2 linked regions of the Homo sapiens genome follow. The protein of the gene in region 2 purifies or fractionates together with the protein of the main gene of each other region. This does not show direct contact. Each region holds a gene or a part of one and is shown on either strand. Other genes may lie near its edges.

What was found. The genes of interacting proteins can lie anywhere in the genome.
Region 1: the proteins of AKIRIN1 (region 2) and SEC13 purify together in Homo sapiens (affinity purification with mass spectrometry, with the first as the bait; one large-scale study listed by BioGRID). This does not show direct contact.

What each region holds. Positions count from the first base shown.
Region 1 is NC_000003.12:10,307,613-10,311,341, reverse strand, and holds part of SEC13 (protein SEC13 homolog), read left to right. Parts: intron 1-3,729. UniProt on the Homo sapiens protein: Functions as a component of the nuclear pore complex (NPC) and the COPII coat. At the endoplasmic reticulum, SEC13 is involved in the biogenesis of COPII-coated vesicles.
Region 2 is NC_000001.11:38,994,026-38,997,919, reverse strand, and holds part of AKIRIN1 (akirin-1), read right to left. Parts: intron 1-3,894. UniProt on the Homo sapiens protein: Molecular adapter that acts as a bridge between proteins, and which is involved skeletal muscle development. Functions as a signal transducer for MSTN during skeletal muscle regeneration and myogenesis.

The sequences.
Region 1 (3,729 bases), on a different chromosome or scaffold from region 2:
ATAATTTGTATCTATTCTTTTTCTAATCTACTCATTCCAGTTCAGGGTCACAGGTGGTTGGAGCCTGTCCTGGCAGCTTAGGGCATGAGGCAGAAGCCAGCCCTGGACAGGATACCATTCCACCAGAGGAGCACTCACACACACCCCCACACTCACACTGGGACAATGCAGACGTACCATTGAAGTGAACATGCACATCTTTATTGTGTGAAAGGAAACCAGAGTACCAGGAGAGAGCCCACGCAGACACAGGGAGAACACACAGACTCCACACAGGCAGGGGCCCCCGCTGGGAGTTGTTTTTTTTTTTTTAATCTTGTCAGCATTATAATGAAATGAAATTGAGGATCAGTTGTACATAGAATGAGACAATCTGTGGTCTTTTGTGACTGGCTTCTCCTACTTACTATAATGAGTTCAAGTTTCATCCATATCATAGCGTGTATCAGCACTCCATTCCTTTTTATGGCTGGATAATACTCCATTGTGAATATAGACATTTTGTTTATCCATTCATCAGATGATGGATGTTCTCGGCCTTATGAATAATGCTGCTATGAACATTTGCAGATAAGTTTTTGCATGAACATATGTTTTTAATTCTCTTGGGTCTATACCTAGGTGTGAAATTGCTGAGTCATATGGTAATTCTGTGTTTAACTTTTTGAGGAATTGCTAAACTGTTTTGCAAAGTAACTGTACCCTTTTACATTCCCATCAGCAGTGTATGAGGGTTCTAATTTCTCCACATCCTCACTAACATATGTCTGTCATTTTGGTTACAGCTGTCCTAGTGAATGTGAGGTGGTATCTTATTGTGATTTTTTGGGTTTGTTTTGTTCTGTTTTTTTGAGACGGAGGCTTGCTCTGTCACCCAGGCTGGAGTGCAGTGACATGATCTCGGCTCACTGCAACCCCCGCCTCCCAGGTTCAAGCAATTCTCATGCCTCAGCCTCTTGAGCAGCTGGAATTACAGGCACACGCCACAACACCCGGCTAATTTTTGTATTTGTAGTAGAGACAGGGTTTCACCATTTTGCCCAGGTTGGTCTCAAACTCCTGGCCTCAAGTGATCCGCCCACCTCAGCCTCCCAAAGTGCTGGGATTACAGGTGTAAGCCACCACACCCGGCCCTTATTGTGATTTTTATTTGCATTTTGCTAATCAAAGATGATGGTGAGCATCTTCTGGGGGCCTTTGGAGAAATGACCAGGAGGGGTTTGCACTCTGTAACACCGAGTGAGTGGAAGCGGCCCACAATAAGAAAGGCTGAAGGGGCGGGAAGAAATCTGAGCTCTGTGATCCTCCAGAGCAAGCCTCTGGGACAGGGCCCCTCAGGAGGAAGAACTGCAGGAAATGAAATCACAGTTGAGCTGGATAGGGACACAGGAAAGGAAGGATGAGATGTAGACCAATGTGGGGAAGAGGAACAAAGACAGGAACTCCTGAAAGCCATCTCCCACGTTTTTTAACACCACACAGAAACAAGGGAGAGTTCTGAGCTTAGACTTTCCTGAGCCTTTCTTATCAGGAAAACTCATCTCACCTAAAAATAACAGAAAAGTATTTGAAGTGAAATTGCATACAGTTGTTATATAAGAAACAAGAATATGCAAAATAACCTCCCTGCGGACAATGAGAGCACATTAGAAAGACATGCCCACATAACCGAGCCAAGCTGTAACCTGCTATTTCAAATCAAGCCAGGTGACATTCTAACAATACAAAACAAGAGAGAATAGTGTAAATCAACTTTTTAAAAATCAGAAATAAGGTGACAGAACTCAGGAAAGAATTAGAATTAAAAATCATTTCAGAAGTAAAGAAAGACTAAGACGAAATGCAAGTGTCGATGAACACAGCAGATCCTGCCTGAAAAGGATAAACAGTGTGAAAAAGGAAACATTTCAAGAGCAAAAAAATGAAGAGGTAAAAAGGTTTTGACCAAAAGTAAAGACAGGCAGAAAGGTCAGACATACGAATACCAGGAGTCCCTGGAAAGGAAAACAGAATACCAAAAAGTAATCCAGAAAACTTTCTTAAAATTAAAAAACAAAGATTTGAAACTTGAGATTGAGAGATCATACCCCACACTTAACAATATCAGCCGGGCGCAGTGGCTCAGCCTGTAATCCCAGCACTTTGGGATGCTGAGGTGGGCGGATCACCTGAAGTCAGGAGTTTAAGACCAGCCTGACCAACATGGCGAAACCCCGTCTCTACTAAAAATACAAAAATTAGCCAGACGTGGTGGCGCACACCTGTAATCTCAGCTACTCGGAAGGCTGAGGCAAGAGAATTGCTTGAACCCGGGAGTCAGAGGTTGCAGAGAGCCAAGATCACGCCATTATAATCCAGCCTGGGCGACAAAGCAAGACTTGTCTCAAAAAAAAAAAAAAAAAAAAAAATCAAGGCCAGGCGTGATGGCTCAGCCTGTAATCCTAGCACTTTGGGAGATCGAGGTGAACTCCTGTTTGAGGCCAGGAGTTCAAGACCAACCTGGCCAACATAGTGAGACCCCGTCTCTAAAAAAAAAAAAAAAAAAAAAAATTCAACTCAGCATCACCAACAAAAAGATATAATTCTAGTAAAATTATTAGACTTTAAAGAAAATTTTGGGGGGTTCTAGAGAAAAGGAACCTTGTGACTTAAAGGGGAAAGACAATTAGATTATTGTCAGACTCTTCAATAGTAAGGATTGGTGCAGAAGAAAAAAGAATAACATGTTTAAAATACTCCAGGAAAGAAAGTGTGAGCCAAGGATTTATAACCAGGAAAATTGACTTTGAAGTTCACACAAAGACTTATACACAAAAGGTTATAGCAGCTTTAATAGCCAAAAACTGGAAATAGTCCACATGTCCATCAACAGGTAAATGATAAGTTGTGATATATCCATACTTTGGAAATACTGCGAGCAATAAAAAGAAATGACTGCAATAAAAAGAAATGACTTAACAAAATAAGATGAAGAATAAATTTCAAAATAATTATGCTGAGTGAAAAAAAGAAGAAAAAGGACACACTGTGATTCCACTGCTGTAATATCTAGGAAATGCAGCTGAGCAGGCCCATGGTCACCACGATTGGGGGCTGCAGGATGGGGAGATGGATTACCAGGGGATCCGAGGAAACTTTTGGGAATGATGGGCATGTTCCTTATCTTGATTGAGGTGATGTGATGATCCTACAGGATATATTTTTGTCAAAATTCACCAAATCATGCACTTGATATGCAGTTTATGTCAATTATACTATATCAAAGCTGTTTTTAAAATTAGCTTTTGAGTGTAAAGGATATGAACTATTATCAATATGCAAGAATTCAGGGACTATTGTTTCTAGGAGCCCTTCCTGAGAAATCTACTAGAGGATACAAGTCACACAACTAAAATGACTACAAAGACTTCAGCATAAATATATAGTTACTTGTAGAGAACTAAGACGAAATGAGGGTTAAAAGGCTGGGCCCAGGGCAGGCACAGTGGCTCACACCTGTAATCCCAGCACTTTGGGAGGCTGAGGCAGGCGGATCACCTGAGCTCAGGAGTTCAAGACCAGCCTGGCCAACATGGCAAAGCCCCATGATGTGGTTTGGCTGTGTCCCCACCCAAATCTCATTTTGAATGCCCATGTGTTGTAGGGGGTAACCAGTGGGAGTTGAGTCATGGGAGGAGGTCTTTTCCATGCTGTTCTCTTGATAGTGAATAAGTCTCACAAGATCTGATG
Region 2 (3,894 bases):
TTGGCATAAACCAGACAGAGTTCCCTTTACTTGTTTTCCTGTGGCAAAGAACACAAGATCTGCAGTTAGCTGGATGGTTAACTAGTACAATTTACAGTAAAAGAAACCTCTGTTTACCTAACAGGGATTATTTTTTAATCTCCTTTAAATTTCGCAATTTCACAACCTAGGGTATTAAGGGGTGAGTCTCATACTGCCCAAGACCTTCTAACAAGGAAGCTCTTGTCCCATATGGGACTTTAAAAAAGCATCTTTGGAGCTGGAAGTGGTGGCTCCAAAGCTGGGTGTAATCCCAGCTACTCTGCAGGGGGAGGCGGGAGGATCCCTTGAGCCCAGGAGACTAGCCTGAACAACACAGCAAAATCTCGTCTCAAAAAAAAACCACAAGGGAGCCTGGGTGATTTATCTAAAAAACAAATCAAAATAAACTTTGGGAAAGGGGGCAGCAGAAACCATTATGTTTACAGTGTGGACATCGACCAAGGAAAGAACTGAGATTTAATGCCTAGAAGTGATGGTCAGGGCTTAGAAAATAATTTTCTGATCCTAAGAGGCAACTCAGTGTGTGGGGAGATTATAAGTCAAGGTAATCACAAAGCAAATTTGCTAACACTATTAAAGGGAGCCCAGGAAACACAAATTACTAACCACCTTGAAATACACTCCTAGAAACAACAAAGAATCTAAAAGGATGTGGTTTTCAAGTTCTTTGTTTGTACCTACTAATTTAAAAAAAGAGATACCTGTATCCATCTCAAACAACTCAAATTATTCTAGTGTATACTTTGCTATAACCACCTTTTTTTTTTTAATGGTGGGAGGTATTAACAATGCCACTTTGCTTCTTACTAGCTGTGTGACTATAACCTTGAGAAGTTATTCAGGATCTTTACTTCTTCAATGTAAACATTAAATACCTACCTGATAAGGTTGTAAAAATAAAAACTAAAGGTAACAATAATGTCATAACAAGTGACAGTACAGTCCAGGAACTGACATGAATTCAAGTGGTTCCACACATAGTCAAAGTCCCTAACTTTCAGCCTAAATACTAGAACAATGTAGGAGATGCTTTAAGAGTGTTATGGGCCAGCTGGGTATGGTGGCTTATGCCTGTAATCCCAGCACTTTGGGAGGCTGAGGCAGGCAGATCACAAGGTCATGAAATCGAGACTATCTTGGCTAACATGGTGAAACACCGTCTCTACTAAAAATAAAAAAATTTAGCCAGGCGTGGTGGCACGTGCCTGTAGTCCCAGCTACTCAGGAAGCTGAGGCAGGAGAATCTCTTGAACCGGGGAGGTGGAGGTTGCACTGAGCCGAGATTGTGCCACTGCACTCCAGCCTGGGAAACACAATCAAGACTCTGCCTCAAAAAAAAAATAGAAAAACAAAACAAAAAAACAAGAGTGCTATGGGCCAGGCACTGTGGCTCATGCCTGTAATCCAGCACTTTGGAAGGCCAAGGTGGGAGGATCACTTGAGGCCAGCCTGGGCAACATAACGAGACCCAGTATTAAAAAAAAGAAAAAAAGCCTGTACATGGTGGCTCACGCCTGTAATCCCAGCACTTTGGGAGGCCTAGGCAGGTGGATCACCTGAGGTTCGAGACCAGCCTGACCAACATGGCGAAACCATCTCTACTAAAAATACAAAAATTAGCTGGGCATGGTGGTGCGCACCTGTAATCCCAGCTACTTGGGAGGCTGAGGCAGGAGAATTGCTTCAACCCAGGAGGTGGAGATTGCAGTGAGCCGAGATCACCCCATTGGACTCCAGCCTGGGCAACAGAGTAAGACACTGTCTCAAAAAACAAAACAAAACAGTGCTATGAAGTTTGTATTTTAGATTCCTGAATTTATTAAGTTTTCACCTCACTTTATTTTTTAAGAGAGTCTTACCCTGTCGCCCAGGCTGTAGTGCAATAGCACAATCTCAGTTCACTGCAACCTCTACCTCCCAGGTTCAAGCAATTCTCCTGCCTCAGCCTCCAGAGTAGTTTGGATTTCAGGAGCCCGCCACCACACCCACCTAATTTTTTGTATTTTTAGTAGAGACAGAGTTTCACAATGTTGGCCAGGCTGGTCTCAAACTCCTGACCTCAGCTGATCCGCCCGCCTCGGCCTCCCAAAGTGCTGGGAATACAGGCGTGAGCCACCGCTAGCCCCCTGTATTTTAAGATGTCTTATTCCTCAAGCCAGAGCCAATACAAGGATAAGAACTGCAAATACTTGAAACAAGAAAGGACAAGTATGAGGACAACGCTTAAGAGAACAGAAGGTCTTTGATAAACCTCTGCCTCCTGTATGGCAATGTTAACAAATGGAAAGATACAATTTTGAGGGTGGTAGGACTAAGAAGTCCAAGAATCTAAACACGGTATCCATGGGAGAAAAATAAGAAAGTTAGACATGATTTTCTTCTGTAGAAGGCCATATAAAGCACAAAATTTTTTTAAAAAGAAAAACTCAAATTTCTTTTTAACAGTGGATAATTTTAATCCTTCCCTCCATTACTTGAGGTTGTGCTGCCAGATTTTTTCCGGTCTAAGCCCATCCTCCAAACTCTACAGTGTTCCTACTGCTACAAACCAAAATTCAAACTCTTGAACATGGCAGTCAATACTTTCCAAGATGTGGCCTCAATTTATTTTCCTGGTTCCATCTGGATTCCACTATAATTTAGTTACATTACATTATTCTCTCCTTAAATTGTGGGTTTTTTGGACTTTGCTCTCATGGTTTCCCTGTGCTCGAAATGGGACTATTGCTCAAACTTGATCAAGACTCAGCTAGCCAGGCGCAGTGGCTCATGCAATCCCAGCACTTTGGGAGGCCGAGGCGGGCAGATCACCTGAGGTCAGGAGTTTGAGACCAGCTTGGCCAATACAGTGAAACCCTGTCTTGACAAAAAAAATACAAAAATTAGTAGGCCGGGTGTGGTGGCTCATGCCTGTAATCCCAGCACTTTGGGAGTCTGAGGCAGGCGGATCACCTGAGGTCAGGTGTTTGAGACCAGCCTGACCAGTATGATGAAACCCTATCTCCACTAAAAATACAAAAATTAGCTGAGAATGGTGGCATGCGCCTGTAATCCCAGCGTTCTGGGAGGCTAAGGCAGGAGAATCGCTTGAGTCTGGGAGGTGGAAGTTGCAGTGAGCCGAGATCATGCTACTGCACTCCAGCCTGGGCAACAAGAGCGAAACGTCATCTCAAAAAAAAAAAAAAAAAAAAAAAAAAAAAAAAAATTAGCCGAGCGTAGTGACACATGCCTGTAATCCCAGCCACTGGGGAGGCTGAGGCAGGAGAATCGCTTGAACATGGGAGACGGCGGTTGCAGTGAGCCAAGATCGTGCCACTACACTCCAGCCTGGGCAACAGAGTGACTCTGTCTCAAAAAACAACAAAAAAAGACTCAGCTAAAATGCTACCTTAATTCAGAAGTTATTCTCAGACTCTCAAGTCATAATCAGTTAATTGCTTTGCACATTACGTTTACAAATATTTCCTGCGGTCAGCAACCCCCTTCTTCCATGTCTGGAATTCACCTAGCACTCAATAAAGATTTAAGCAATAAAAGGCTTAGTTTTACAGGACCTTTCCACAAAAAGTACCATACAGATTGAGCATCCCTCATCCAAAATGCTTGAGACAGAAGTTTTGGATTGTGGAATAGTTGCATTATACTTACCAATTGAACATCCCTTACCCCAAATGAGAAAAACTCCAGTGAATAAGTATTTCCTTTGAGTGTCATATTGACACTCAATTTTTGGATCAGTTCAGACTTTGCAGCATTTCGGATTTCAGAAAAATTGCCCAGCTAATTTTTTAGCTTTTTTTTTTTTTTGAGATGGAGTTTCACTCTTGTCACCCAGGATGGAGTGCAATGGCC